Homo sapiens: one gene and its partners. The protein of the gene in region 2 interacts with the protein of the main gene of each other region in a pairwise test. Each region holds a gene or a part of one and is shown on either strand. Other genes may lie near its edges.

Evidence for each region.
Region 1: the proteins of FARS2 (region 2) and PCSK5 interact in binary tests that used the Homo sapiens proteins (3 or more experiments, as listed by UniProt).
Region 3: the proteins of FARS2 (region 2) and TFCP2 interact in binary tests that used the Homo sapiens proteins (3 or more experiments, as listed by UniProt).
Region 4: the proteins of FARS2 (region 2) and PPP1R16B interact in binary tests that used the Homo sapiens proteins (3 or more experiments, as listed by UniProt).

What each region holds. Positions count from the first base shown.
Region 1 is NC_000009.12:75,886,332-75,893,696, forward strand, and holds the start of PCSK5 (proprotein convertase subtilisin/kexin type 5 isoform 3 precursor), read left to right. Parts: upstream 1-4,341; 5' UTR 4,342-4,850; coding exon 4,851-5,042; intron 5,043-7,365. UniProt on the Homo sapiens protein: Serine endoprotease that processes various proproteins by cleavage at paired basic amino acids, recognizing the RXXX[KR]R consensus motif. Likely functions in the constitutive and regulated secretory pathways.
Region 2 is NC_000006.12:5,264,503-5,271,527, reverse strand, and holds part of FARS2 (phenylalanine--tRNA ligase, mitochondrial), read right to left. Parts: intron 6,539-7,025; exon of another isoform or gene 6,450-6,538; intron 4,087-6,449; exon of another isoform or gene 4,005-4,086; intron 1-4,004. UniProt on the Homo sapiens protein: Is responsible for the charging of tRNA(Phe) with phenylalanine in mitochondrial translation.
Region 3 is NC_000012.12:51,093,133-51,100,137, forward strand, and holds the end of TFCP2 (alpha-globin transcription factor CP2), read right to left. Parts: intron 6,648-7,005; coding exon 6,523-6,647; intron 5,787-6,522; coding exon 5,644-5,786; intron 2,909-5,643; coding exon 2,857-2,908; intron 2,147-2,856; coding exon 2,109-2,146; 3' UTR 524-2,108; downstream 1-523.
Region 4 is NC_000020.11:38,906,696-38,913,720, reverse strand, and holds part of PPP1R16B (protein phosphatase 1 regulatory inhibitor subunit 16B isoform 1 precursor), read right to left. Parts: intron 6,743-7,025; coding exon 6,667-6,742; intron 5,916-6,666; coding exon 5,786-5,915; intron 5,694-5,785; coding exon 5,528-5,693; intron 1-5,527. UniProt on the Homo sapiens protein: Regulator of protein phosphatase 1 (PP1) that acts as a positive regulator of pulmonary endothelial cell (EC) barrier function. Involved in the regulation of the PI3K/AKT signaling pathway, angiogenesis and endothelial cell proliferation.

The DNA of each region.
Region 1 (7,365 bases), on a different chromosome or scaffold from region 2:
ATGCCCGGCTAATTTTGTATTTTTAGCAGAGATGGGGGTTTCTCCATGTTGGTCAGGCTGGTCTTGAACTCGCGACCTCGGGTGATCCGCCTGCCTAGGCCTCCCAAAGTGCTGGGATTACAGGCGTAAGCCACCACACCCGGCACTTTTTCTTAATTTTTTTCAATATATCTAAGCTACATGGTTTGTCTGAGAGTTATTTTAAATTGTGGCAATCTCCAAAAAAAGTACGATGTATTTTTTGAAGAAAATCTGCATAAATGGACCTGTGTAGTTCAAATCCAAGTTGTTCAAGGGTTAACTAGTAATTTATCATTATTAGCATTATTAAATTTTGGGAACTTTCACACCAATTCTCAATCTGATATACTAGCATACCATAGAGTTGGTAACTCTTCTAATTGGCAGTGAAATGTTCAGAGGCATTTTTTTTCTCACACTGGTCAGCTCCAAACAGCCCATTACCAATTTATTATTGATTCACAGAATCTCAGGTTATAAGAGATCTTAGAGGTTAATTTCTGGCATTGGATATAGCAGAGGAAGAAATAAGGTGTCTCATAAGGCAAACTCTTCCCAGAATAATTTCAGTTTGCAGAGTTTCAAGATGGGTCCTTATGGAGTTCTTTTTCTCTTCTTCCATTAAACTGCTTAGATTTCTTTCTGTTCATTGCATTTCAGCGAAGTTTTCTTTTAGAGATTTAAGGGACTTTGGCAGACAGGCCAAACACTAGTGGGGCCTCATTATCAAGTAATATGTTGCAAAGTATAAGGCAGCGTAAAACTGAAAACTGCCTGGTTATCTGCCATATGGCATTTTACAGAGGAAGAGTCCAGGGGCAAATCTTGCAGTTCTGTTCTTCGCATACAAAAAGAAAACACTCATGCAAGACTTGGATTTTTGCTTCTTTACAATGTTAGGAATGGTTTTCTATCAACCACTACTAGTCTATCAGTTCCTCCTTCCTTTGGCTACTGAGACATTTGTAATAGAATTGACTGTCATAACCATCAGAGCATAAGGTCATGAAATATGACAGATTCTTTGCTGTTGCTATTGGTGCTTATCTGCAAGCTTCCTTCTTGGCCAACAAGGCTCTATCCAAGGAAGCTAATGAGATCGTTAAAGTAGATCCCAAAGGAGGAAGCAGAATATGTCTATTCATCAATGGAAGTGGGACTTCTTTGATATCATTTAGGTTTAAGAATCACACTTTTTGAGAATGGACTTATAATGGAACTGTGATATAACTGCAAAAGCTATGGATAGTAAGAGGAATGAGTCTACATCCATACATTTGATTTAACAGATGAATGAGGGTTCAACTCATTTTTTAAAAAAAAAACAGGGCTAGGTTTTTCCCTTTAAAATATATATGCATTGAAATGAAAGAATATGCCCTTTGAGTAAGTTTAAATGCTGGCCCAGGGATTAGTTTACAAAGCAGAAAAGTGGTTTGCCCACTTCCTACCTCATTTTCCAATTTTCTCTCATGTTCAATGCAGTGAATGTTACATTTGTGTGTGCCAACCAGGGCATGCTCACAGAAGGAAAGAGTGCTAGTGGAAAGAAAAAGAGAAAGACACCATGGAGAAAAAAATATTAATGATCAATTTTTCCACCCCAAGAAAAAAATCTCCAGGCTCCAGAAAACCGGGTGCAGTGATTCCTCTCCATTTCATTCAGAATTTGAAGCCCAGAGACAACAAGGCTTTGAAAGAGAAGCATTTTGTGCTGCCTTTGTAGTCCTAAACAATTAACAGCTCCAGAGTCCCAGAGAGAAACCCGTACGGCATCCTTCAAACTTGTTACAAAGTACCTTATGTAGTGGCAACCCTTCTGTGGATCACGGTGAGACAGGTCCTTCCTCCTACCTGAAATGCCCACAATTCTGAATTAAAAAAAAAAAAAGAGAGATTGACTGTCCCTTATATGTGTATTGAGATGTGGACCTTGACTGAAGTCTTATCCCATCTGAAATTTACCATCTTCAAGAGGGGTAATCCAATGTCCCTATGCATAGATGCAGATTGTCAGAGTTAACAGTGTTGTAATAGATTGTGAGCTTTCGGACTCCATGGCTAGGGAAGCAGGAAGAGATGTGTCTACAGGGACTGGCTAGCAGGGAGACTGTACCAAAACTCTAAAGCACAAGCATAGTGCTTATGTTTTCCTCTTAAAAATAATAATAATAGGGCCGGGAGCGGTGGCTCACGCCTGTAATCCTAGAACTTTGGGAGGCCGAGGCGGGCGGATCACAAGGTCAGGAGATCGAGACCATCCTGGCTAACACAGTGAAACCCCGTCTCTACTGAAAATACAAAAAAATTAGCCAGGCCTGGTGGCGGGCGCCTGTAGTCCCAGCTGCTCGGGAGGCTGAGGCAGGAGAATGGCGTGAACCCGGGAGGCGGAGCTTGCGGTGAGCCGAGATCGCGCCACTGCACTCCAGCCTGGGCAACAGAGCGACACTCCGTCTCAAAAAAATAAATAAATAAATAATAATAATAATAATAATAATAATAGGACGGGCATGGTGGATCATGCCTGTAATCCCAGCACTTTGCGAGGCCAAGGCAGGCAGAGCATTTGAGATCAGGAGTTCGAGACCAGCCAACCCTGTCTCTACTAAAAATACAAAAATTAGCCAGCCTGTAATCCCAGCTACTCGGGGAGGCTGAGGCAGGAGAATCGCTTGAATCCGGGAGGCGAAGGCTGCAGTGAGCCAAGATCACACCACTGCACTCCAGCCTGGGCGACAGAGCGAGACTCTGTCTCAAAAATACATACATACATACATACATACATACATACATACATACATACATACATACCTTCAATAATAAACCACATTTACTCTACAGTATTCAGAGATTCTGAATTCCACTAATTTTTTGTGCCTCCCCCTTCCCCTTTCTCCAGTGTACAGCACAATTCATTGCACATGCTAGGTGCTCAAAACAGATGTGTTGAATCAGTCAAATAAATAAACGAATAAAATACATACACTTCTGCACATGTTTTAGTTCTTCTGATCTTCTATTTCTTCAGCTATAATGTGGGGATGATGTTATTTTGTGGGTTTGTTTTCAAGATTAAATAATATAGCATACCTTATACAATATGTAAAATGTCAAATGCTATGCTCAAAGGTACTAGTGGAATTTTAAGTCTGCAGGTATCTTTCAGATTTTAAAAAATCAGTACCAAAAGCTATAGGTGGGATGAGTTAATTAATCTCAAACACATTTAAATTAACAGGAAGAAAGAAATAGGGCATGGTAGGAGGAGAGAAAGGAGGACAGTTAGGGATATAGTGAATACTTTTAAAGTCAGTTGAATTATTTCATACGGGATAATTTTTCTTGTCACAGTAAATCACCCTGTGCCCCACCCCCGCTCCAGGAAGGCAGGGAGGTTGTAAAGGAGAAGCGAGAAGAGGGTTAATTTGAGCTCCCTCCTGCCTGCTGCAGTCACAGTGCATGATAGAGTAATGAAGGTGACGCCGCCACATATCTCATCTGAACTTCCTCTGTGGTCTTTTTCATATTAAAGTCTTTCACTGTTACAGGACTGTGCTTGGAAAAGTTGGGAAACTTTTCCCTTGGTGGAGAAAAAGAAGCCCTCGTCAGACGCAATCCAACAAATGAATGGAGTTATTTCCTTGGCCCAACATGTCCATCCACTAGCACACCAAATATTCATAGAAACATCTTTCCTCACTTCCAAGGCCGGAATTGTACTCTCCCGTGGCGTTGCCTAGTATCGCAGATTTCGAAAGTGAGCAGGCAACAGACTTGGCTTTCGAGCCAATTCTAGGAGTCGATGCGACTTACTGTCCTGTGTGGTAGCTTCTCCCGGGAGCAGAAAGTGTAAAATAAACAGCTGCTGAAAAGCATGAAGAATTAACGAAGTGAAAATCTCGAGTTATTTGTTCGGCAATTGACACGTAAGTGACCTCCTTAAATGCCTAGTTATTTAAGGACGTTTAGAACGAGGATGAATGAATCTTCAGGGCGGTTAATTCGCACCGGCGTGTAAATTTCTTTAGTCTTTCGGGAAGTGGCGGTAAATTCATACAAATCCAGCAGGGAGGGAAGAGAAGGGAGTAAAACCACGATCTCGGAGCGCTCTTCTCAGTCCTTTGGAAAGACTTGCCTTTACTGCCCGGAACCCTGGAGGTTACAGCTGGGCGAACCCGGAGGCGCTAGGACCTCGTCAGCGCCTGGCTGCGGCCGCTTTCAAGAGGGCGGAGGAGGGAGAGGAGGAGGGCGATGTGGGAAAGGAGGGGTGTTAAGGGGGGCGGGGGAAGTCATTTATGCAGAGCAGGAGCTGCTGCCATTGCCACTCAGAATCCTCGCGCGCTGCTCGGAGCCGGAGGGAGCGCTGGGAGCGAGCAAGCGAGCGTTTGGAGCCCGGGCCAGCAGAGGGGGCGCCCGGTCGCTGCCTGTACCGCTCCCGCTGGTCATCTCCGCCGCGCTCGGGGGCCCCGGGAGGAGCGAGACCGAGTCGGAGAGTCCGGGAGCCAAGCCGGGCGAAACCCAACTGCGGAGGACGCCCGCCCCACTCAGCCTCCTCCTGCGTCCGAGCCGGGGAGCATCGCCGAGCGCCCCACGGGCCGGAGAGCTGGGAGCACAGGTCCCGGCAGCCCCAGGGATGGTCTAGGAGCCGGCGTAAGGCTCGCTGCTCTGCTCCCTGCCGGGGCTAGCCGCCTCCTGCCGATCGCCCGGGGCTGCGAGCTGCGGCGGCCCGGGGCTGCTCGCCGGGCGGCGCAGGCCGGAGAAGTTAGTTGTGCGCGCCCTTAGTGCGCGGAACCAGCCAGCGAGCGAGGGAGCAGCGAGGCGCCGGGACCATGGGCTGGGGGAGCCGCTGCTGCTGCCCGGGACGTTTGGACCTGCTGTGCGTGCTGGCGCTGCTCGGGGGCTGCCTGCTCCCCGTGTGTCGGACGCGCGTCTACACCAACCACTGGGCAGTCAAAATCGCCGGGGGCTTCCCGGAGGCCAACCGTATCGCCAGCAAGTACGGATTCATCAACATAGGACAGGTAACGAACTACAGGCTAGCCCAGCCCTCGGCCCTGAAGCCACTGGGGGCTTCTTGTCCCCTCTGCGTGGAACCCCCTCCCCCTCTTCCAGATGTGCTCTAGCAGCTGTTGCCCTAACTCTTGGGCGATGCTCTGTCTCCTGCGCGCGCGCGCGTACGCACACACACACACACACACACACACACACACACCCCAGAGTTGCCGGGTCCGTGTTTTGTTTACTTGTCTTTTCCAAGCCACGCGGGACTGGTAGGGTCTCGGGAAAAATCCAGAGTGCCCCCGTGGTGGCTTCAGAGACGGCTGGACCTTTTGACCTGAAAAGTCGAGTAGCACTAGTAATCTGAGGCAGTCTCAGAGAGGGTGATCGTGGGGAGAGGGGGAAATTAGGTCTTTTGGGGGATAGGGGGTGAGCGCGCCTCTGATGCCTGCGGGGAAGGGAAAGCCTTTCCTGCTCGGACCTGAATTTAGCCCAGAAAGAAGTTTCCTCTTGGGCGAGAGAACCTCTGGCGCTGGAGACTCCGGAGGCGCGGGGACTGGAGCTGGAAGGGAGGAGAAAGGAGGGGGAGGGAAGAGGGGGCCGGCCCCGGTGTGAGTGCAGATTTAGGGGAGACCTCTAGGCTTTCTCGCCTTAAGCGAGGTCCGCGTGGGGGCTCCCGGAAGGGAGTTGTAGTGGGGAGGTGGGAAACTTCCGAAACCGGCTGGCTGGGTTCCGCTCCGGGAAAACGAGGAGTCTTACCCCGGGACGGAAGGTGCCGGGCCGGGAGGTTGCGCCGTGGGGCGAGAGTTGGGCAGGCAGCAGGGGCGCGGGGTTTTTGTGGGGTGCCGCTCTCGGGCTTTTGGCAGAGCTCTCCTGCTAGGGAGAAATGCCCATAAACTAAGGTGATGCTATGAGGATGATTGGAAGCGTAACAGATTTGGAAGTACTCCGGGTTCAGTGGTCTTGGCTTTCTGGTTCTCTTCCCCCGACACCCCTGCGAGAAATGGGGGTAGAGAGGGCTATGAAAGTGGGTCCCAGAAAGTACCCCCCTCCACATACACACCGCAAGCATCTTTGGGGTTGGCCGGAGGGGCGGGCCCTGGCTGGGCTCAGGCGAGAATCCGCTGGAATGGGAGGTGAGGATGATGGATGGCGCCTTTCCAGCAGGCGCGCTTTGGGGACTGCCCGGGGTGCACGCACCCTGCGTGCTCTGCCAGGGGGAAGGGAGAGGGAGGTGCTGGCTGGTGCCGGCGGAGTGGGAGAGTACGGACAGTTTCTGAGGCCATTGCGTTCCACGCCCAGGAACCCGGGGACACCCCCCGCCCCTCCTCCCCGCCGCCTGGGGGATGCGGCACCTGGAGAGGAGGCAGAGCTGCTGTCGCCGCGTTTAGAAGGAGCTGGGGAGTGCGGGGAGTGTTCAGAGGAGCAAGAGCACAAGATCTTGCTCTTTGCCCGCCCAGAGGGAGGACATATTCCAGAGAAGCCAGCCCTGTGGAGAACTGAGACTAGGGCAAGGGGCACGGTTTGTATTCCCTCCTGCCCCTGGAACTAAGGAAGTAAGGGAAGCCAGCCAGATTTTGTTGCTTGAGTGACTGTTATCTGCGGAAGATTTCCATTCTAAAGGCTCGTTGGGATTCTACTGGCTTCTTTTTCTCTGGAAGAAAACACTGAGTCCGTTCAGGTCTTTTTACATGAACTTAAAGTTGGGCACTGCCTATGCCCTGGGAATGGAACTGGGGAGGCTAGCACTGAAAGTAGCTAGTACTATTAATCTTTCCAGAGATTCATCTCGGGTTCTGCTAACATTGAACATCTCACACATGACCAGGCATTTTTGGAGGAATAAATTCTTGAACATACCCTTCTTTCTTAATCTCAAAACAACCTTGTTTGGTGAATATTACCTCACACACAGGAGATGAGGAAACCGAGACCAGCTAGACAGTGGCAAAGCAGTGATTCAGACCTGCTACTCTGACTGTTGCAGGCCCAGTCCCCCATGGATCCTGCCTTTTAGGGAACCCTTCCATGCCATGATGAAGGAGGAAGGAAGTAAAATCTCCATTTCCTTGAATTCTGATTTAATGGCTCAGTAGGCTGGAAGCAAATATCTGGTCTCAGTTCACAGATATTTAGTTCAAACGCACCTAGCTTTCTTGACTTTAACAAGGGCAGAAACAGCTGTTACCTTTCTGAATTAATTGAGCAGAACTGGTATATGACAGAATCTGGCATAGCGAGATGGGAGAAATTGTCACCAAATCCACTTTTGAACAAGCAAACATTGCAATGTCCTGCAACCTCTGCTTGACTATTTACAAAAGGCCTTATAGTGAAGATTCATGG
Region 2 (7,025 bases):
TATCACAAAAAAATTAATCAAATAAAAAAATATAACTCTGGCAAGATTGCTCTAGTGAACTTTGTTCCTTTTACAAAAAATAATTCCCCTTTATCTCTAGGAGCTAGGCAACTGGTTCAAGACCAAAAGAATCCTATCTTCTCCCTGGTCACAGTTATTGGTTCAGAAATGGATGAGGACATGACACAAGGAGGGCCAGTGACATGAACGGAGAGGACTGCTGAGCACTCTTGGTCCAGAAGCTCTCTCACTCCTCTAAGGTTTTGGAAACAAGCGCCCCCAAACTGTTGATGGTTTCCCATAACCGAGAGAGAGGACTCTGGCCAGACGATAAAATTTACGTTAGAGAAGACAAAGTAGAGAAAAGCACAAAATTGAATCTTTGGCAACATCACTCAAACCAATCAACCCTAAAGCCCATCTGGCTTCTGAACCCTCAAGACACAGGAGACAATAAAGCCACTAGGTTTGTTTAAAACAATTTGACTTCAGTTACTTGCAATGGCAGTCACTCTAAGCTGAAGAGCAATTCACCATACTAAGGGAGCTTAACAGAGGAAGATGTACTCAAGTTAGAGAAGGTAGCTTTGAGTAAGCATCTCTTAAACTGAGATCAGAAGAATAATTAGCAAGGGAAGGAAGGGCACTCCAGGCAGCTGGATCAGCATTTGCAAAGGTCCCCAGGGTAGAGGGGAAAGAGGTGAGTACTAAAGAATGAAAAGCAGCAAGCGAAAAATAAAAAGGTATGACATGGGACTGGAGAAGTGGGTAAGCGCCATAGTCGTCAGGGTCTCATAGGCTGTGTTAAGGAATTAGACTTCATCCTAAAAGTGCTGCAGGTTTTTGGAGAGAAGGTGATATAAAAATTACTGTCTATAGTGTGGTGACATTAATTCATATATATCTAAGGAACATACCTGACCACCAGTACTATAATGAACATTTCATTTTCAAATAGCTTTCAAGACAACAGAAAAATTTCAGCAAACACTGTAACTTGACACACGTGGAATCTCTTCTACAAAGTTAACAGAAGGGCATCCAGACAGCTTGACAGCTCTAGCGAACCACACTTATGTCCTGAAACGTATTAATCTGGGATAGTTTACTTGGAAATTATTTGAAGACCTGGGCTCTACAAATGAAAGCTGACTGTAATTATCATCCAGCCCAGCTCTCACAGTACGCAGAAGCCAAGGGTGTAAGTGGGATTCCTAACAGGGCTTAATGTTATGAATGCCCAGGCACATGTGCTTGTCTCAAAGTGCTCCAAGACTTGAAATAAATAACAATGTGCTTATCTCAGAACGTCAAGAAACAGGAAAGAAAGTATGCTGCCTGCTAAGCTTTTTCTATTTCATGACTGCTTCATTTTACTTTCCCTTTGCACTGCAGAATTCCAGGAATTGATTTAAAAAAAGATAATTCTCCCAAAAAACTCATCTTCATTAACTGAAACTAACTGTTTTACTCTCTGCCAATATTACTGTAATCCATTTCACAGAAGCCAGGCTTTTATAACTCTTAAATATTGTTAGTTAACTCAAACTCACAATTACACATACAGATTACAAGTTTGCCAGGCTGAAGTGCTTCAATTGTGCTCAGAAAATAAATGTTTACATTAAAACGTTATAAAATATTAAATCATGTAATTCACTATAATACCAAAGAAATCATGAATTCTCTGTATATCTTCTATTGTTAATAACAGTCTACAGTATACTATCAACGATATGTATCGACCCATCCTCTGAGAGATCAGTTAACATCACAGATCTCAGTATTGCACATCTTAAGACACTGACCTAGTATTTTTCCAGTGATTAGCAAAATGTAGGCTGTTTTTTGTAAACAGACTCAACACTGCAAATTCTAAATGTTTTCTGTAAACAACCTACTGACCTGAACAAACAAGAGATGGCGGCTAATACACTCATTCGAAGAAGTCAATCAGAACTTCAAATATGTCACTAGAAAAATTACTAAAATGAGATACTGCTAAACAGCAATGAAAGGACTCTTCTTTTCTCTTTTTTTTTTTTTGGTTATTTTCATTTTTTTTTTTATTATACTTTAAGTTCTAGGGTACATGTGCACAAGGTGCAGGTTTGTTACATATGTACACATGTGCCATGCTGGCATTAGGTATATCTCCTAATGCTATCCCTCCCCCCTCCCCCAACCCCACCACAGGCCCCGGTGTGCGATGTTCCCCATCCTGTGTCCAAGTGTTCTCGTTGTTCAATTCCCACCTATGAGTGAGAACATGCGGTGTTTGGTTTTCTGTCCTTGCGATAGTTTGCTCAGAATGATGGTTTCCAGCTTCATCCATGTCCCTACAAAGGGCATGAACTCATCCGTTTTTATGGCTGCATAGTATTCCATGGTGTATATGTGCCACATTTTCTTAATCCAGTCTATCATTGATGGACATTTGGGTTGGTTCCAAGTCTTTGCTATTGTGAACAGTGCTGCAATAAACACATGTGTGCATGTGTCTTTACAGAGCATAATTTATAATCCTTTGGGTATATACCCAGTAATGAGATTGCCGGGTGAAATGGTATTTCTAGTTCTAATACCTAGGAATCCAACCTACAAGGGATGTGAAGGACCTCTTCAAGGAGAACTACAAACCACTGCTCAATGAAATAAAAGAGGACACAAACAAATGGAAGAACATTCCATGCTCATGGATAGGAAGAATCAATATCGTGAAAATGGCCATACTGCCCAAGGTAATTTATAGATTCAGTGCCATCCCCATCAAGCTACCAATGACTTTCTTCACAGAATTGGAAAAAACTACTTTAAAGTTCATATGACCCAAAAAAGAGCCCGCATTGCCAAGTCAATCCTAAGCAAAAAGAACAAAGCTAGAGGCATCACGCTACCTGACTTCAAACTATACTACCAGGCTACAATAACCAAAACAGCATGGTACTGTTACCAAAACAGAGATATAGATCAACGGAACAGAACAGAGCCCTCAGAAATAATACCACACATCTACAACCATCTGATCTTTAACAAACCTGACAAAAATAAGAAATGGGGAAAGGATTCCCTATTTAATAAATGGTGCTGGGAAAACTGGCTAGCCATATGTAGAAGCTGAAACTGGATCCCTTCCTTACACCTTATACAAAAATTAATGTGAGATGGATTAAAGACTTAAATGTTAGACCTAAAACCATAAAAACCCTAGAAGAAAACCTAGGCAATACCATTCAGGACATAGGCATGGGCAAGGACTTCGTGTCTAAAACACCAAAAGCAATGGCAACAAAAGCCAAAATTGACAAATGGGATCTAATTAAACTAAAGAGCTTCTGCACAGCAAAAGAAACTACCATCAGAGTGAACAGGCAACCTACAGAATGGGAGAAAATTTTTGCAATCTATCCATCTGACAAAGGGCTAATATCCAGAATCTACAAAGAACTTAAACAAATTTACAAGAAAAAAATCAAACAACCCCATCAAAAAGTGGGCGAAGGATATGAACAGACACTTCTCAAAAGAAGACATTTATGCAGCCAAAAAACACATGAAAAAATGCTCATCATCACTGGCCATCAGAGAAATGCAAATCAAAACCACAATGAGATACCATCTCACACCAGTTAGAATGGCGATCATTAAAAAGTCAGGAAACAAAAGGTGCTGGAGAGGATGTGGAGAAACAGGAATACTTTTACACTGTTGGTGGGAGTGTAAACTAGTTCAACCATTGTGGAAGACAGTGTGGCGATTTTTTTTTTTTTTTTTTTGAGACAGTCTCGCTGTGTCTCCCAAGCTGGAGTGCAGTGGTGCGATCTCAGCTCACTACAAGCTCCACCTCCCAACTTCATGCCATTCTCCTGCCTCAGCCTCTCGAGTAGCTGGGACTACAGGCACCCACCACCACATCCGGCTAATTTTTTTTGTATTTTTTTAGTAGAGACGGGTTTTCACTGTGTTAGCCAGGATGGTCTCCATCTCCTGACCTCGTGATTCACCTGCCTGGGCCTCCCAAAGTGCTGGGATTACAGGTGTGAGCCACCACGCCTGGCCTGGACTGTTCTTTTCATGGCAAAGCTCCTAGAAGAGAGAAAACAAACTCTAAATAAATAATAGCTATCATTACAATAAGCTGTAGCTAGTTTGATTAACAAATCATCCTAAAATATCCAGACAATATGAAAACATTATTCCTAAAATACTGGTCCCTCATATGCAGCAAGAAAGAAAGAATGAAAGTGATCTATAACAGATTACAACAAATCACACTGTAAAAGAATTCTCATGGTGGTCGGGGTTTGTAGCATGAAAAGATGGTTTCTTTCCTTTACAATGAAAAGAATTAATGAGTTTTTTTTTTTTAAGAAAAAAAACCTCTAGAAATAACTGACATTTGAAATACTTTACACAAAATAAATTGTCAATTTTGTTGTTACTGCCCACAAATACGGGAACCCTTAGCCTCCAATCAATGAAGCTAGAGTGTCTAGTTGCAACATATCATAGCTTTCAAGATTTCTCAAAACAGAGAACAGATTTTCATAAGTATATCTGAAAAAAGCTTCTACAGAAATGTGAGTCTCAGAGAATCCCCCAAGAGGAAATGTCTCACATACACACATAAATAGACAACCTAAAAAAGCACTACGTCTTTTCAAAGAGATGTTAATAGAATAAAATGTAAATTTATCTTAAATAACTAAAAAGCTAGTATAAAATCAACATTTGAGATTCCCAGAATATTTATAATATTTCCAATACAAACCGGTTAGCTTTACAAATAAGTGAGAATCCAACTAAATTAAAATTCAAATATGACTGAAATGTACCCATGTTATCCAAGAAAAATCAATAACCTTCCAATTCCTGAAGCTGGTACTTTATCTGTGAAGCAGTGTTGTATCATAGCTAGACAGATCACATCTCAGGCCAAGGTCCACACTAGCTACTTTCCAGCTGTGTGACCCTGGCTAAATAAACTCTCAGCTTCATTTTTTTTTCTTTTTTTTATTCTATTTTATTGAGATGGGGTCTCGCTATGTTACCCAGGCTGGCCTCAAACTCCCAAGCTCAAGTGATCCTCCTGCCTCAGCCTCCCACAGTGCTGGGATTACAGATGTGAGCCACCACACCTGGGCAGCTTCACTTTTCTTAAATGGAGATAACAGCTCTTCCATCAGGTCATGGGAAGACTAACTCAAATCATATCAGGATTCAGCTCATCTCATGCCTAAAACATATGAAAGCCGATGTATTACCTTTTCACGGGATCTCCCCGTTCTCACCCTCATGCACTCTACAGCTCTGGCCAAAGCCTTCCGCAGGTCATGATTGTTTTTTCTTAGACCTCAATCAGGGTTTCTCCTTCATCCTTTCAAGGTAAAGGGTGAGTCATCTTCCACCTACAGTAGCCATCTTACCACCACATTCAAACATTTAAATCCTTCAATTCCTTTCAAGGCCCAGGAGAAACTTAAATCCTCTCAAGCCCAACACAAACACTACCTCCTCCATGAAGCCCCCTAATTCCTTCAGGTCAATGTTTCTCAGCCCTGGCTCTACCCAATCATGGAGAGAATTTTAAAAAAAAATTAAACAAAATTATCTGAAGCCTGGGCCTTAGCACTGCTGTTGGTCTGAGGTGTGGCCCAAGCATCAGGGATGAAGTGACCTCTCCTTGCACTGAGACCCCACAACGCTTCAGCAGCCCTTTGTACAGGATGGTAGAAAAGTTATTGCTGTTTTCACCCTTAAAAGTAACGGTCAAAACTGCAGCTACTTTCACCAACCTAATACCTTATTTTAATCATATACAAATGCATTTAAAGTATAAACTTCTGGAAAACAGGATCAGTGTTTGATTTATATATCGCCCTCAAGTTACCACAACAACAGTAACTTAAATTGCTAGGCTGCCAGCTATCTCTTGAATGCACAGGTAAATAAATAACATTTCAGTGCCTCTGGAATATAGGATTCAAAGTCATGATTTGAAACAAAAGGTTATCAGTACCTGAATAAATAATCTCCATTTCAACAGCTCAGCTGTTAAGTTCTACTTATATAACTCAGCCAATGCATAAGGGAAGAAATGATTTATTCCAGACAGAGAGAAAACATCACTAAAATAAAGCTAGTACAGGGCTAAACACTTCAGTGGTCCCTCCCTTCCCACCTCCTACCATTCTAAAACACTTAAGAGTTCTCTAAATAGATCAAGCACCCTTCTTCCTCCATGCTTGGATATACACTGCAATCTTTAACCACATTCCTCATCTGGCTTTTACTTCTCATTCTGGAAACACCTTCTACGATGGAAAGCCTTCCCATAGGTGAAACTCCTGGTTCAATATTCCTCTTCCCTATTCCTTTAGCGTTTACTAATATTACTCATATCGCAGCAACTGTCAAAAAGAAATTATTGGCCAAGTGCCACGACTCACAGCTATAATCTGAGCTCTTTGGGAAGCCAAGACAGGAGAGGCACTGAGGAGTTTGAGACCACCCTGGACATCATAGTGAAATCTCATCTCTACAAAAAAAAAAAAAAACACTTAAAAATCTGCCAGGCATGGTGGCATGAGCCTATAGGCCTAGCTACTCAGGAGGCTGAGGCAGGAAAATCACTTCAGCACGGGAGTTTGAAGTTACAACGAGATATGATAGCACTACTGCACTCCAGCTTAGTAAACAGAGACCCTGTCTCTATAAAATAAATTATTGTTTCGCTTATCTAGTCACCTACAAGTTTCTTAGGGGTGGGGAAGCTCTCATCACTGTGACTATATCATCTTATATAATATATGGTACTTATGGGCCGGGCGCGGTGGCTCACGCCTGTAATCCCCACACTTTGGGAGGCCAAGGCAGCTGGATCACCTGAGGTCAGGAGTTCAAGAAAAGCCTGGACAACATGGTGAAACTCCATCTCTACTAAAAATACAAAAAATTAGCCGGACGAGATTGCACCATTGCACTCCAGCCTGAGAAACAAGAGTGAAACTCTGTCTCAAAAAAAA
Region 3 (7,005 bases), on a different chromosome or scaffold from region 2:
TATTAAAAAAAATTTTTTTGAGACAGTCTTGCTCTGTCACCCAGCCTGGAGTGCAGCAGCCTGATCTCAACTCATTGCAACCCCACCTCCCAGGTTTAAGCAATTCTCATGTCTTAGACTCCCAAGTAGCTGGGATTACAGGTGTGTGCCACCACGCCCAGCTAATTTTGTATTTTTAGTAGAGACAGGGTTTCACCATGTTGGCCAGGCTGGTCTTAATCTCCAGGCCTCAAGTGATCTGCTTGCCTCAGCCTCCCAAATTGTTGGGATTACAGGCATAAGCCACGGTGCCCAGACTCATTTCTATATTAAAAAAAAAAAAAAAGAAAAAGGCATCTAGTCCAACTTTCCTACCCAAACACCTAGACATAAAAAAAAAAAAAAAAAAAAAAAAAAAAATCCAAACCAATAGCAGCCTGCTGAGGAAAGAACTGAGGTTGAGAACCAGTACTAGGAATATAAGACAACCAGATACGTCTCCTCCTCAAAATGGAGACACCTGGTAATCATTCACTAAGAAGCATTTTGGTGTAATATAACAAGTTGCTCAGGTCAGTTTTAAACAAGTCATTGACTTAATTTTTTGGTTTCAAAGTTTTCAATTTGTTTCAAACCAAGAGAAATTAGACCATGATGCAGATTGAGTTTAATGAACAAAAATCTCTGTATAAAAAACATTTAAACCTTATCAAATGCTTTAAACACACACACACACACACACACACACAAATCCAAATCCAATACACAATCTTAGAACATTATCTTTGTGTACCTCAACATAACCTGTAAAAGTATTTCTAGATAAAACTTTACAAGTGAAGAAAGAAAACCCATGATGTTACACTTACACACTTACACACACACACACACACACACACAATCATTCTTAAGGAAGAACAAAAACATGGTAAGAGTGTGAACAGGAAGGGAATGCATCTTTTTTTGTAAAGCTTCTATTAAAAAACATAGCATGAGTAAAATAACTTCCTATGCCAAGAGAAGATGCAGAGAGAGGAAACAGAAAGCAGGGATGAGACTAACTCATTAATAAATAGTTTGAGAATGTCATTCAAGAACAGTAAATTTGGGGAGTTACAGATAATCCCCAGTTGTCACCACCTCAAATTCTTTGATTCCGATAACTAATGACACTTAAAAAGCATCTATGTGTTCATTTCTTGTAGGTCTTGATTTGTTCATCATTATTTAGGTGTGCTTTGTCTCTTTCAGTGGTTAATTCCTCAGTTCATACTCAGTGTTATGTTGTAGTCACCAGAAGGGCCACAGTAATAAGCGAAGTGAACACAGGTTATAATGGGTAGCACTGGTGGTATGAGAGGGTGAATAAGGAGGGCCAGATTGCCTGGTTTGGATTTCAGCATCACTGCCTGCCAGCTCCTGGCACCTAGCAAGCTACTTAGCCACTGTGTGTCTCCATTTCCTCATCTTCGGTTGGGGGTCACTATAGCACCTACTTCAGATAGTGTGATTAGGGGGTTAAACAAGATGGTCATTCAAAAAATTTATCACACTGCCTGGTCAATAAATGTTAGCTGAAAATACTATTAGTTGTGGTATTACAGGGGAACCAAAAGGAAAATTCTGTATTTCTCCTCACTGATAAAGTTTTCAGGGACAAACTGTGGCAAAAAGCAGAGATACCAGTACATTTGAGACCAGTACAAAGAGATTGAAGACCTAGTCTTATGAATATAGATACCCATTTTTATATAAGAAAAAAATTACAGGGCTCCATATCACAAAATTTAAGATCTTCCTGTTAAACATCACACAATTCCCATCATCATTATGCCCTACATACACTCTAAATTATGTAGAGTTTCTACTGATATTTAACAACAACAAGGTCCAGAAATTTAACTAAAACAGCTGCAGAACTGCATATTGGGCAGTAATCTGTGTGTACCACAAGAGCTTGGGCCAACACAGAGGGCCAGGATTCTGCCTCCATGGCCTGGACTCCTCCACACACAGTCAGACGAGTCAGGTTCTTGCAGACCTTCAAATCTCCATTCATATCCCCCTTCAAGAGGGCCGTTTTCAGAGGTGAAGGAAGGAGCAGCCACTGGGCACGAAACGCCGCACTCCTACTTCAGTATGATATGATAGCTATCATTGGTTTCTGCTGTTAAAAAAAAGAGAGAGAGAGAATCATCTTTAGTCACCTCTAAAACACAGCAGGAGAAAAAAAGTATGGTAAGATTCTCGTGAGAAGGGGAGAAAAGGGAGGTGGAGGTTGCAGTGAGCTGAGATCACGCCACTGGACTCCAGCTTGGGCAACAAGAGCGAAATTCTGTCTCAAAAAAAATGCATTATAAAAACAACATGCCTCAATTTCCTCATCTGTAATGGAAGATGGAAGAGAATGGCAAAAAGCTGGGCCAGGCACAGTGGCTCATGTCTGTAATCCCAGCACTTTGGGAGGCCAAGGTGGGTGGATCGCTTGAGGTCAGGAGTTCGAGACCAGCCTGGCCAACAAGGTGAAACCCATCTCTACTAAAAATACAAAAATTAGCCAGACATGGTGGCACGTGCCTGTAATCCCAGCTACTTGGGAGGCAGAGGGAGGAGAATCACTTGAACTTGGGAAGCGAAGGTTGTAGTGAGCCGAGATCATGCCACTGCACTCCAGCCTGGGCAACAGATCGAGACTCTGTTTCAAAAAAAAAAAAAAAAAAAAAAGCCAACTTAAAAAAAGGAACAATCTCTAATATTGTCACTTTCTTTACCCAAATATGGTTACTTTTCCTATCTCTCCTCAAAGAAGTATGTACTTTGCCTAGTAGTAGTAAAGCTGTTAAACTGCTTAGAGAAAGATGTTTGTCTTACTATTACCTTTCATTGTGTCCAGAATAAAACATGCTTCTTCCTGAAAGTTCTGTATCATCTGAAAAATGCAAGAAAATTTGTGATTATTTAAATGAAAAACAACCCCTTTATATTCCTGTGTCCCTAAGGACTACCCCACATCCAGAGGGATTTATATGGGAGGCTTTACAGGTCACAAATAATGTATTTCTTGAATATCTAGGATCATAAAAGTTTTTTCCTCCCCTCCCATTTGGTTTTTAAATATTAAAAAACTAAGCAGATTGGAAGAGTTGTTTTAAAGCCTGGTATGCATTTCCCTGGGTTAACCCCAAGACTCTCCAAGGAGCACACGGACACAAATATGTGCATACAGGAGAACTGACTTCCGTGTCTTCAACTCCCATATGTGCTCTTTCCTAAAACCTCTTTAATTTTCCTTCCCCACTTTCCCTTCTCAAACTCCCTTCTCCCAGGGATAAACTCCCTTCTCCCAAGATAAAGGCATGAGTTTCACCCTCCCAGGATCCTAATAAGGTGGCCCATGATGTGAAAGCTTCAGGTGGCAAAGTGGAATGGCGAAGGTGAACGCTAATAACTGAGCAATAGACCCTTTTATGAGCCACATGGTTTCTAACTCTTTCCTTTCACCAGAATTAAAGAGTAACCTAATCACAAATTGTCGTAAGACAGAGGATTCAAAATGATTTTTTGGTAATATCACTATGTAATTTCTGGTATATAATTCTGAAGTATAATCTAATGACATTGTCATTACAAAATTCCATCCATTCCTATCAATTTATGGGAATCAAGTCCCTCAGCATTTATATCTAGAGGAAAAAAACAGAATGGAATTGATGCTGAAATCCTGTGTCATTCTAGCAATCAATAGGCAGTATTCAGCTACAAAGGAAATAATTATGTGCAAGGGTACAGGTAGGGAACGAAACAATTTCATCGAACTCATTCATAGATATACCTGTAATAATTTTTTCTTAATTTTTTTTTTTTTTTCTGAGACAGAGTTTTGCTCTTGTTGCCCAGGCTGGAGCGCAATGCCCCCATCTCGGCTCACGCAACCTCCGCCTCCTGGGTTCAAGGGATTCTCCTGCCTCAGCCTCCTGAGTAGGTGGGATTATAGGCACGTGCCACCACACCCGGCTAATTTTGTATTTTAGTAGAGACAGGGTTTCTCTATGTTGGTCAAACTCCTGACCTCAGGTGATCTGCTTGCCTCGGCCTCCCAAAGTGCTGGGATTACAGGTGTGAGCCACTGTGCCTGGCCTTCTTTTTTTCTTTTTTTGGATGAAGTCTCGCTCTGTCGCCTAGGCTGGAGTGCGGTGGCGCAATCTTGGCTCACCGCAACCTCTGCCTCTCGGGTTCAAGCAGTTCTCTGCCTCAGCCTCCCAAGTAGCTGGGATTATAGGCACCTGCCATCATGCCCAGCTAATTTTTGTATTTTTAGTAGAGATGGGGTTTCACCATCTTGGACACGATGGTCTTGAACTTCTGACCTTGTGATCCACCCGTCTCAGCCTCCCAAAGTGCTGGGTTTACAGGCATGAGCCATTGCGCCTGGGCAGCCTTCTTAATCTTTAATAATTACTTATTAAAACATGTAGCATATTTACATTATTTTAATCAATTGTATAATTATGATAATTCCATTATAATAATTTTTAAATTTTTATTTAAAAACTTTATTTCAAACAAATATAGTAGGATAATCAATAAAAGATGTTTGTGCATAAAAATATGTTATGGTAAGATGGCCAGGCGTGGTGGTTCACATCTGTAATCCCAGCACTTCGGGAGGCTGAGGCGGGTTGATCACTTGAGGCCAGGAGTTCGAGACCAGACTGGCCACATGGTGAAACCCAGCCTCTACTAAAAATACAAAAATTAGCCAGGCATGGTGGTGGGTGCCTGTAATACCAGCTACTTGGGAGGCTGAGGCAGGAGAATTGCTTGAACCTAGGAGGCGGGGTTGCAGTGAGCCGAGATCACACCACCGCACAACAGCCTGGGCGACAGAGTGAGACTCTGTCTCAAAAAAAAAAAGTTACAGTAAGATAAAATTCACCGGGGGAAGTAAATGAAAATAAGAGTTCAAGGAAACAGAGGAATAGTATAAGAATTCTAACTGTTAAAGAAAAGCACAATCATGTATTTTTTTTTAATGGATGGTGGTGGTATTAAATCATTTTTGTATTAAGGTTACATGGGATGCAATTAGAATAATGATGTAACCATTTCACTTAAAAATGTCATTATATATGCCCAGAAATGACATCTTTTACAACTATTTAAACTTTAACAAAAAATTTTAAGTCAACCTAAAAATGTGCATGGGAATATGTGGTTTTTAAAATATTTTAGGACCAGGCGCAGTGGCTCACATCTGGAATCCCACCACTTTGGGAGGCCGAGGCGGGTGGATCACTTGAGGCCAGGAGTTTGAGACCAACCTGGCCAACATGGCAAAACCCCATCTCTACTAAAAATACAAAAATTAGCCAGGCGTGGTGGCGCACGCCTGTAATTCCCACTATTCGGGAAGCTGAGACAGGAGAATCACTTGAATCCAGGAGGAGGAGGTCGCAGTGACCTGAGATTGGGCCACTGCACTCCGGCCTGGGCAACAGAGAGAGACTGTTTCAAAAAAAAAAAAAATTAGGAGGAAAGCAAGCAAAAAAGTATGAAACCCTCTGATCTAGAAAACAGAACACTCTGCCCCAGGAGAACTGCTCTTGCTCCATGCGCTGACAAATTAATCATCATCTGGTAATTCAACTGTACTGAAAAATCTACCTCATCACTGATGAGCACATGAATTCCTGTTGGCCCCTGCTTGTAAATCTGGCTGATCTGGCAAGGGGAAATGCTGAAAAGCTGAGCAATTTTTTCTGTCAATTCAACAGCTGTTAGTTCTTCTAGATAGATAGCATGGTAAACTGCAAAAGGGAGAGAGCAACAGCAGTCAGTACAAAGTTTGTCCACTCTTACAGGTAACTTGATCACTAGGAATGCCCACTTTTCTGAAGGACTCAGAAATCACACTGCCTAAGTTCAAATCCTGGCTCAACCACTTGCAGCTGTGTGACCTAGGGCAAGTTATTTAACATTCCTAGGCCTGATTTTTCTTGCATAAATACCGGAGATAACAGTAAAATCCTCCGCAAAGAGGAGATATTAGTTGTAAATATTAAAGCATATAAAAAGTGTTAAGAATAGTACCTGGCTGGGTGTAGTGGTTTACACCTATAGTCCCAGCAATTTGGGAGGCTGAGGCAGGGAGATCGCTTGAGCCCAGGAGTTCAAGACCAGCCTGGGCAACATAGGGAGATCCCATCTCTACAATAAATAAAACAATTAGGCAAATGAGTAGCTTTAGTTCTAGCTACTCGGTAGGCTGAGGGGAGAGAATCACTTGAGCCCAGGTGGTCAAGGCTGCAATGAGTCATGATTGTGCCACTGTACTTCAGCCTGGGTAACTGAGTGAGACTCTGTCTCAAAAAAAAAAAAAAAGAATGGCACCTGCCATGTATTAGGAACTTAATAAATGCTAGTGATTATTGTTACTTCTAGCAAATACTAAATCTGCTGTTTGATAGTTTCCCATCACACATGCCCATAAGTTATCTCTTCACCTTTCTTCATATCTGTCCTAGTGTGTCCAGAACAACCTACCGAAGAAAGTACCATTTGAGTCTCCATCCTCATGCTTCTGCTGCTGTTGCTGCTGCTGTTGTTGCTGCTCCCTCAACTGCAGTGATTCCTGACAAACATAAATGGTTAACCTTGGACGCACCATCCTAAGGGGAGGAAAAAGGCTAATTAGTCTTACATTCTTTATGGTAAGCACAATAAAAAGAAGGGAGAAATTGTGTTTCTACATTAATCGTATAGAGCAGATGAAAATTGGAAGCTCATTGGCCAAATGCAATTAATTTGCTATGTTTTATTAGTTCCCCAGTAGTAGGGTTTTTTTTTTCCTTAAGTGGAATTAGTTCCAATATGAGACATCATATAAACCTCTGAACTTTTGGCTTTTCCTGAAGACTCAGATCTAGCAATCTTAGGCCTGCATTCTCACATGAAAACAATCAGCCGTTCTTCTTACATGATGCATATATTCTTCACTATACCCCAGTCTTGACTGCCATTCACTTA
Region 4 (7,025 bases), on a different chromosome or scaffold from region 2:
CCCAACCCTCAGTCCTTGCAGCCTCTGTCTTCCTCCCTAGGAAACGAACTCCTTTCTCCTTGACCTCCAAGATCTTGCCAATTCTGTGGTCGATGCATTCTACTTACTGCTGCAATCACTTCAAAAACAGTCTCTCTTTAGCTTTAAAAAACAACGACATGGCCAGGCATGGTGGCTCACGCCCGTAATCCCAGCACTTTGGGAGGTCGAGGCGGGTGGATCACAAGGTCAAGGGATTGAGACCATCCTGGCCAGCATGGTGAAACCCCGTCTCTACTAAAAATACAAAAATTAGCTGGGCATGGTGGCGTGCGCCTGTAGTTCCAGCTACTCAGGAGGCTAAGGCAGGAAAATCACTTGAACCTGGGAGGCGGAGGTTGCAGTGAGCCAAGATTGAGCCACTGCACTCCAGCCTGGCAACAGAGCAAGATTCCATCTAAAAAAAATTAAAAAAAAACACCAATGACAAACATATACAATGCTGAGGTCCCAACTCCTGAGATTCTGATTTAGTTTGTCTGTACTGCTACTTAAACATCAGATTAAAAAACAAGGGGCACAGTGGCTCATGTCTGTAATCCCAGCACTCTGGGAAGCGAAGGCAGGTGGATCACTTAAGGTCAGGAGTTCGAGACCAGCCTGGCCAACATGGGGAAACCCCATCTCTACCAAAAAACACAAAAATTAGCTGGGCATGGTGGCGGGTGCCTGTAGTCCCAGCTAATCAGGAGGCTGAGGTGGGAGAATTGCTTGAATCTGGGAGGCAGAGGCTATAGTGAACGAAGTTTGCGCCACTGCACTCCAGTCTAGCCTGGGCAACAGAGTGAGACCTTGTCTCAGAGGAAAAAAACAAAAACAAAAAACAGTGAACCAAAGTCATCCCTGAAGGCTAACAGGGCACAGCCTTGGAAGAAATGTGATTTGGGGGTCAGGCTGAACAAATTATTCCTCAAATAAGTGGTTCTGAAATTCTTGTGTGCAGCAGTATCGCCACATCTGGAGTGGGTCCTGAGAATCTACATTTATTTATTTTTATTTTTTTTTTAGAGACCACGCCTCACTCTGTCACCCAGGCTGGAGTTCAGTGGTGCTATCATAGCTCACTGCAGCATTGAATTCCTCGACTCAAGCAATCCTCCTGCCTCAGCCTCACAAGACCTAAGACTACAGGTACACACCATCACACCCACCTAATTGTTTTTTTTTTTTTTTTTTTTGGTGGGGGGTAGAGATACGGTCTTGCCATGTTGTCCAGTAACTCCTAGGCTCAGAAGATCCTCCCACCTCAGCCTCCCTCAGTTTTGGGATTACAGGATTTGTGATCCACTGTGCCCAGCCAAAGTCTGCATTTCTAACAAGTTCCCAGGTGATGCTGATGTTGCTGGTACAGGGACCATGCTTTGAGAATTCCCACCTTAACATGGTGAAACCCCATCTCTACTAAAACACAAAAATTAGCTGGGCATGGTGGCAGGTGCCTGTAATCTCAGCTACTCAGGAGGCTGAGACAGGAGAATCACTTGAACCCGGGAGGCGGAGATTGCAGTGAGCCGAGATGGCGCCATTGCACTCCAGGCTAGGCAACAAGAGCGGAACTCTGTATCAAAAAAAAAAAAAAAAAAAAGACTGACTATACCAAGGGTTGGCAAGAAACACTCTGCCATGGGAAAGCAGACAGGTACAAGGCACCTTGGAAAACTGCTTGGTAGTATCCACTAAAGCTAAACATATGCCTACCCGTGACTCCAGCTGCTTTCCTGGGTGTTTTCCCAACACAAAATAGTGCTTATGTCCACCAAAAGACATGTACAAAAATGTTTATAGGAGCTTTATTCACAGGAGCCAGAAACAAGAAACCCAAATGTCCACCAAAAGGAGAATGGAGGCCAGGAGCAGTGGCTGACCCCTGTAATACCAACACTTTGGGAGGCCGAGGAGGGTGGATCGTTTGAGGTCAGGAATTCAAGACCAGCCTGGCCAATATGGCGAAACCCCATCTCTACTAAAAATAGAAAAATTAGCCGGGCGTGGTGGCACGCACCTGTAATCCCAGCTACTCAGGAGGCTGAGGCAGGAGAATCGCTTGATCCTGGGAGGCAGAGGTTGTAGTGAGCCAAGAGCACGCCACTGCACTCTAGCTTGGGTGACAAAGCGAGACTCTGTCTCAATTTAAAAAAAAAAAAAAAGGAGCATGGATATGTAAATTTTAATATTCAAACAATCGAATTCTAGAAAGCAATAAAAAAGAATGAGGCGGCCAGGCGTGGTGGCTCACGCCTGTAATCCCAGCACTTTGGGAGACTGAGGCGGGTGGATCACGAGGTCAGGAGATCGAGACCATCCTGGCTAACACGGTGAAACCCCGTCTCTACTGAAAATACAAAAAATTAGCTGGGCGTGATGGTGGGCACCTATAGTCCCAGCTACTAGGGAGGCTGAGGCAGGAGAACGGCATGAACCCGGGAGATGGAGGTTGCAGTGAGCCGAGATCGCGCCAATGCACTCCAGCCTGGGGGACAGAGCAAGACTCCATCTCAAAAAAAAAAAAAGAAAAAGAAAAAAAAAACAAGAATGAGGCCAGGTACAGTGGCTCGTGCCTATAATCCCAGCACTTTGGGAGACTGAGGCAAGAGGATCATTTGAGCCCAGGAGTTTGAGACCAGCCTGGGCAACATAGCAAGATTCCATCTCTAAAAAATTTTGTTTTGTTTTGTTTTGTTTTGTTTTGAGACGGAGTCTCGCTCTGTCCCCAGGCTGGAGTGCAGTGGCTCGATCTTGGCTTACTGCAACCTCCACCTCCCGGGTTCAAGTGATTTTCCTGCCTCAGCCTCCTGAGTAGCTGGGACTACAGACGCGTGCCACCATGCCCAGCTAATTTTTGTATTTTTAGTAGAGATGGGGTTTCACCATGTGGCTAGGATGGTCTCGATCTCTTGACCTTGTGATCCACCCACCTCGGCCTCCCAAAGTGCTGGGATTACAGGCATGAGCCACGGCACCCAGCCAAAAATTTTTTTTAATTAGCCAGGCATGGTGGTGCATGCCTATAGTCCCAGCTACCCAAGAGGCTGAGGTGGGAGGATCGCTTGATCCCAAGAGGTCAAGGCTGCAGTGAGCTAGGATCACACCACTGCACTCCAGCCCAGGCAACAGAGTGAACTCCTGTCTCAAAAAAAAAAAACAAAAAAAAACTACTGCTATATGCCACAACGTGGGTGACTCTCACAGATGTAAAAAAAGCCAGACACGAAAGAAACTGCAGGGTCATTCATATGCATATACAAAATTAATCTTTAGAACTCAAAGTTAAATAGTGACTACATTTGGAGTGGGGGAAAGGACGGAGAGAGAACATGGATGATGAAAATGCTCTATGAATTCATCTGAGTGTGTACATTTGTAAAAGGTTGTTGAAAATCTCATTTAAGATTTGTCTACTTGGCCAGGCATGGTGGCTCACACCTGTAAGCCCAGCACTTTGGGAGGTCCAAGTGGGTAAGGATTGCTTGAGGTCAGAACTTCAACACCAGCCTGGCCAACATGGTGAAACCCCATCTCTACTAAAAATACAAAAATCCACCAGGCGTCGTGGCGGGCACTAGTAATCCCAACTACTCAGGAGGCTGAGGCAAGAGAATCGCTTGAACCCGGGAGCACAGGTTGCAGTGAGCTGAAATCACACCACTGCACTCCAGCCTGGGTAACAGAGCGAGGCTCCATATCATAAAAAAATAAAAAAATAAAAAAAGATTTGTCTGCTTTACCATACTTAAGTTACACCACAATCACAAAGGAAAAATAAATAAAGCACAGCTGGGAGACATCTGAAATGTGATTTGATACTGATCTACATCTCTTTTCTCACCAATCCTCAGACTAAGGGGCCAGGCAGAACAAATCTTCCCTACGTGCCCTCTCCATCACCAGCTGGTGGCTTTGATGTGGCCTCCCCTTGGGCAGGCACCTTCACACCTCCTGGTGAGACAGGCAGTAGGTGACCCCACTGTTCGTGCTGGGAAGCAGGGTCCCTCTGAGACACGTGGGCATGCTCGGTAGCTAATCAATTTCATCCCACCAAGGCTAAACTCTCTAGGCATGTTTTCATCTGTTCGTGGTGTAGTGGAAGAACGAAAATGGCAGACCACTTCTGGTACAGTTAACTTCTCCCTCATCCTCAGCAATTCCACTCCAGCCCCAAACTTGTTCACTCCACTCAGCAAGAAAGCAGCCATGCTGAGTGAGTGTGTTGGTTCTGGGTTAAGTAGTGTCCCTCAAAAATTCATGTCTACCTGGAATCTCTGAATGTGACTTTATCTAGAAATAGGTATTTGCAGGTGTAATAAATTAAATTAAGATTAGGTCATACTGGATTGGCATGGGCTCCAATCCAATGACTGGTGTCCTCATAAGAGGAAAAAACAGGCTAGGTACAGTGGCTCGAACCTGTAATCTCAGTACTTTGGGAAGCCAAGGTGGGAGGATTGCTTGAGGCTAAGTTTGAGGCCAGCCTGGGCAACACAGCAAGACCTCATCTCTACAAGAAATTTGAAAATTAGCCAGTCGTGATGGCCCCCGCCTATAGTCCCAGCTACTTGGGAGGCTGAGGTGGGAGGATCGCTTAAGCCCATGAGTTGGAGTCTTCAGTGATCTATAATCATGCCACTGCACTCCAGCCTGAGTGACAGAGCAAGACCCTGTCTCAAAAAAAACCAATAAAATAAAAATAAAAAAAGAAAACAGACACACACACACGAAGAAAAAGGTCATGTGGAGATAGAAGCAGAGACTAGAATCATTGCTAGCAAGAGCCAAAGAACGCCTGAGCCACCAGAAGCTCGCAGAGGCGTGGAACAGAATCCCCTTGAGAGCCCCCAGAGGGAACCAATGCTGGTGTTACCTGGATTTTAGACTTCTGGCCTTCAGAACTGAGAGAGAATAAATTTCCACCATGTTAAGCCATCCAGTTTGTGATAATTTCTTAAAGCAGCCATCAGAAATGAAAGCAGCTTAAAGCTTAAAGGACCATTGGCTGCTACAGGAGCAGGCTTCTCAGAGGTCCTACTAGGATCCTACTCCATTTTTCAAAAAACATGTTCTGATAAACACAATTCTCAATATCTTGTTATATTTCCTGAAAAAGAAGTTGTAGCACCCTCAGCTCCTGGGTGACTGCCCTACTGAAGCTCTCTCCTTGGAAGTCCACTGCTAGGTGTGCTGGAGCACAGCTAGGCGCATAGCGGACACTCACCCCCTGTCAATTAGGAGACCTACCTGTGTGCCAAAGCACCCAGCTCAGCCTCTAACACACTCCCCGATCACCTCCTTAACTACAGCAGCCACCACCATCAGACTGAATCTGCTGGTTTAACTACAGTAGCCATCATCATCAGACTGGATATGCTAGTTTAAGGGCAGTGCCTGGCTACTTCCCTCTGAAGGCTCTCAGTTGAAGAGGCAAGGCCAGGCTGGGCCCTGTTCTCCTCCCATTGCAGTGGCTGACACTAGGGCAGGGCGTGAGGCCACTCACAGGGTCCTTATTCTCTTGGTCTGTCCTGGTCTCCCTGATGTCCCCGTTGTAGGTGGAGGTCCGCTGATCCTCAGCTGCACTCCGCTGCCACAGGATGGCCTCTCCCTCATACTCCTTCCTATACAGGTTGGTCCTGTCCGACAGGCTGGCTCGCCGCACCACCTTCCTGAGAGGACAAAGTGGGTCCTAGAGGCTGCACCCAGGCACCACAGGCAGGAGCACACACAGGGACTCCTGGCTGCCCTGCCCCGGACTCACCCACGGCTGCCTGCGCTGGAGGTCCTCCGGCTCAAGGATGACTTGTGCCTCAGCTGTGACTTCATGATCACATCATGCTTGTGTTTTAGCTCCAGCAGCAGGACCTTGAACTCTTCCTCCTCGCACAGGTCTGAAGGGGCAGAGGAGTCTGTTGTGGGGGACGGGGCCAGGACCTGTGGCGCAAGAGGGTGCTCCAGACCAGAGGAGCTGCCACCCCAACCCACTGAAAACTCCAAGCATCTTTCAGGGCATGCAGGGAGGCAAGAAAACAATGCCAGCCAAAGTTGAGTGAGTGTGTTTATAAGAGGATTATAAGAATGGGAAACCCAGGTTCTGGGCACAGTCACAATTCCTAAGCTTCCCAGCTATGACCGAGGGATTCATGTTGCTCTTTGATAGTTTCCAAGAAGAGTCCCCAAGCAGGTACCCCACATAGCCCAAGCAATAAATTATGCAAAGATGCTAATAAAGCTACATACTCCCATCTATTCTACCTAACCCCTTCATCCATCTATCTACCTATTGCTGACTGAGCCATGTATTCATAGATTCATCCTTTACCCACTCATCCACTTATTTTTCTGTCTATCCATCCATCCATCCATCCATCCATCCATCCATCCACCCACCCACCCATCCATTCAACCAGACCTCATAATATCTACCCATCTACCACCTCAACCATCCATTCATCCATTTATCCATCTATCCATTAATCTGTCCATCCGTCCATTCATCTACCATCCATTAATTAATCCATCTATCTATCTAGACACCAATCCATCAATCTATACAACCATATATTTATCTATTTCTCCCTCTACCCATCAAAACATTGATAACTGCCTATTTGTGCACACCAGCTATTGTGCTGGACTTACCTATTGGCATCTCATCCATGGATGTCCTTGCACTGAGACTAGCTCCATGGGACACCAATAGCTCTGCCATCTGCATCTGAAACACAGGAAGAAGCTCATGTGTCCCCCTGCCCAGAGCTCAGAAAGCCTAGGAGGTGGAGAGAGTGCCCAAGGCCTCTTAGGATGTGACCCAAAGAATGGTGGGACAAAGTTGATTTCCAGGGAAGGCCTGCAAACTAGAGCCATGGGGGGAATCCAGACAGATGCAATGAGCTTAGCACCTCCTCCACATGCCTGGGCCACACCAAGAAGAAGGAGAAGAAAGAGTTGGCTGTAACTCTAGAGCTGGCAGGTATCTAAGGAGGGACTAGGTGTAAGTG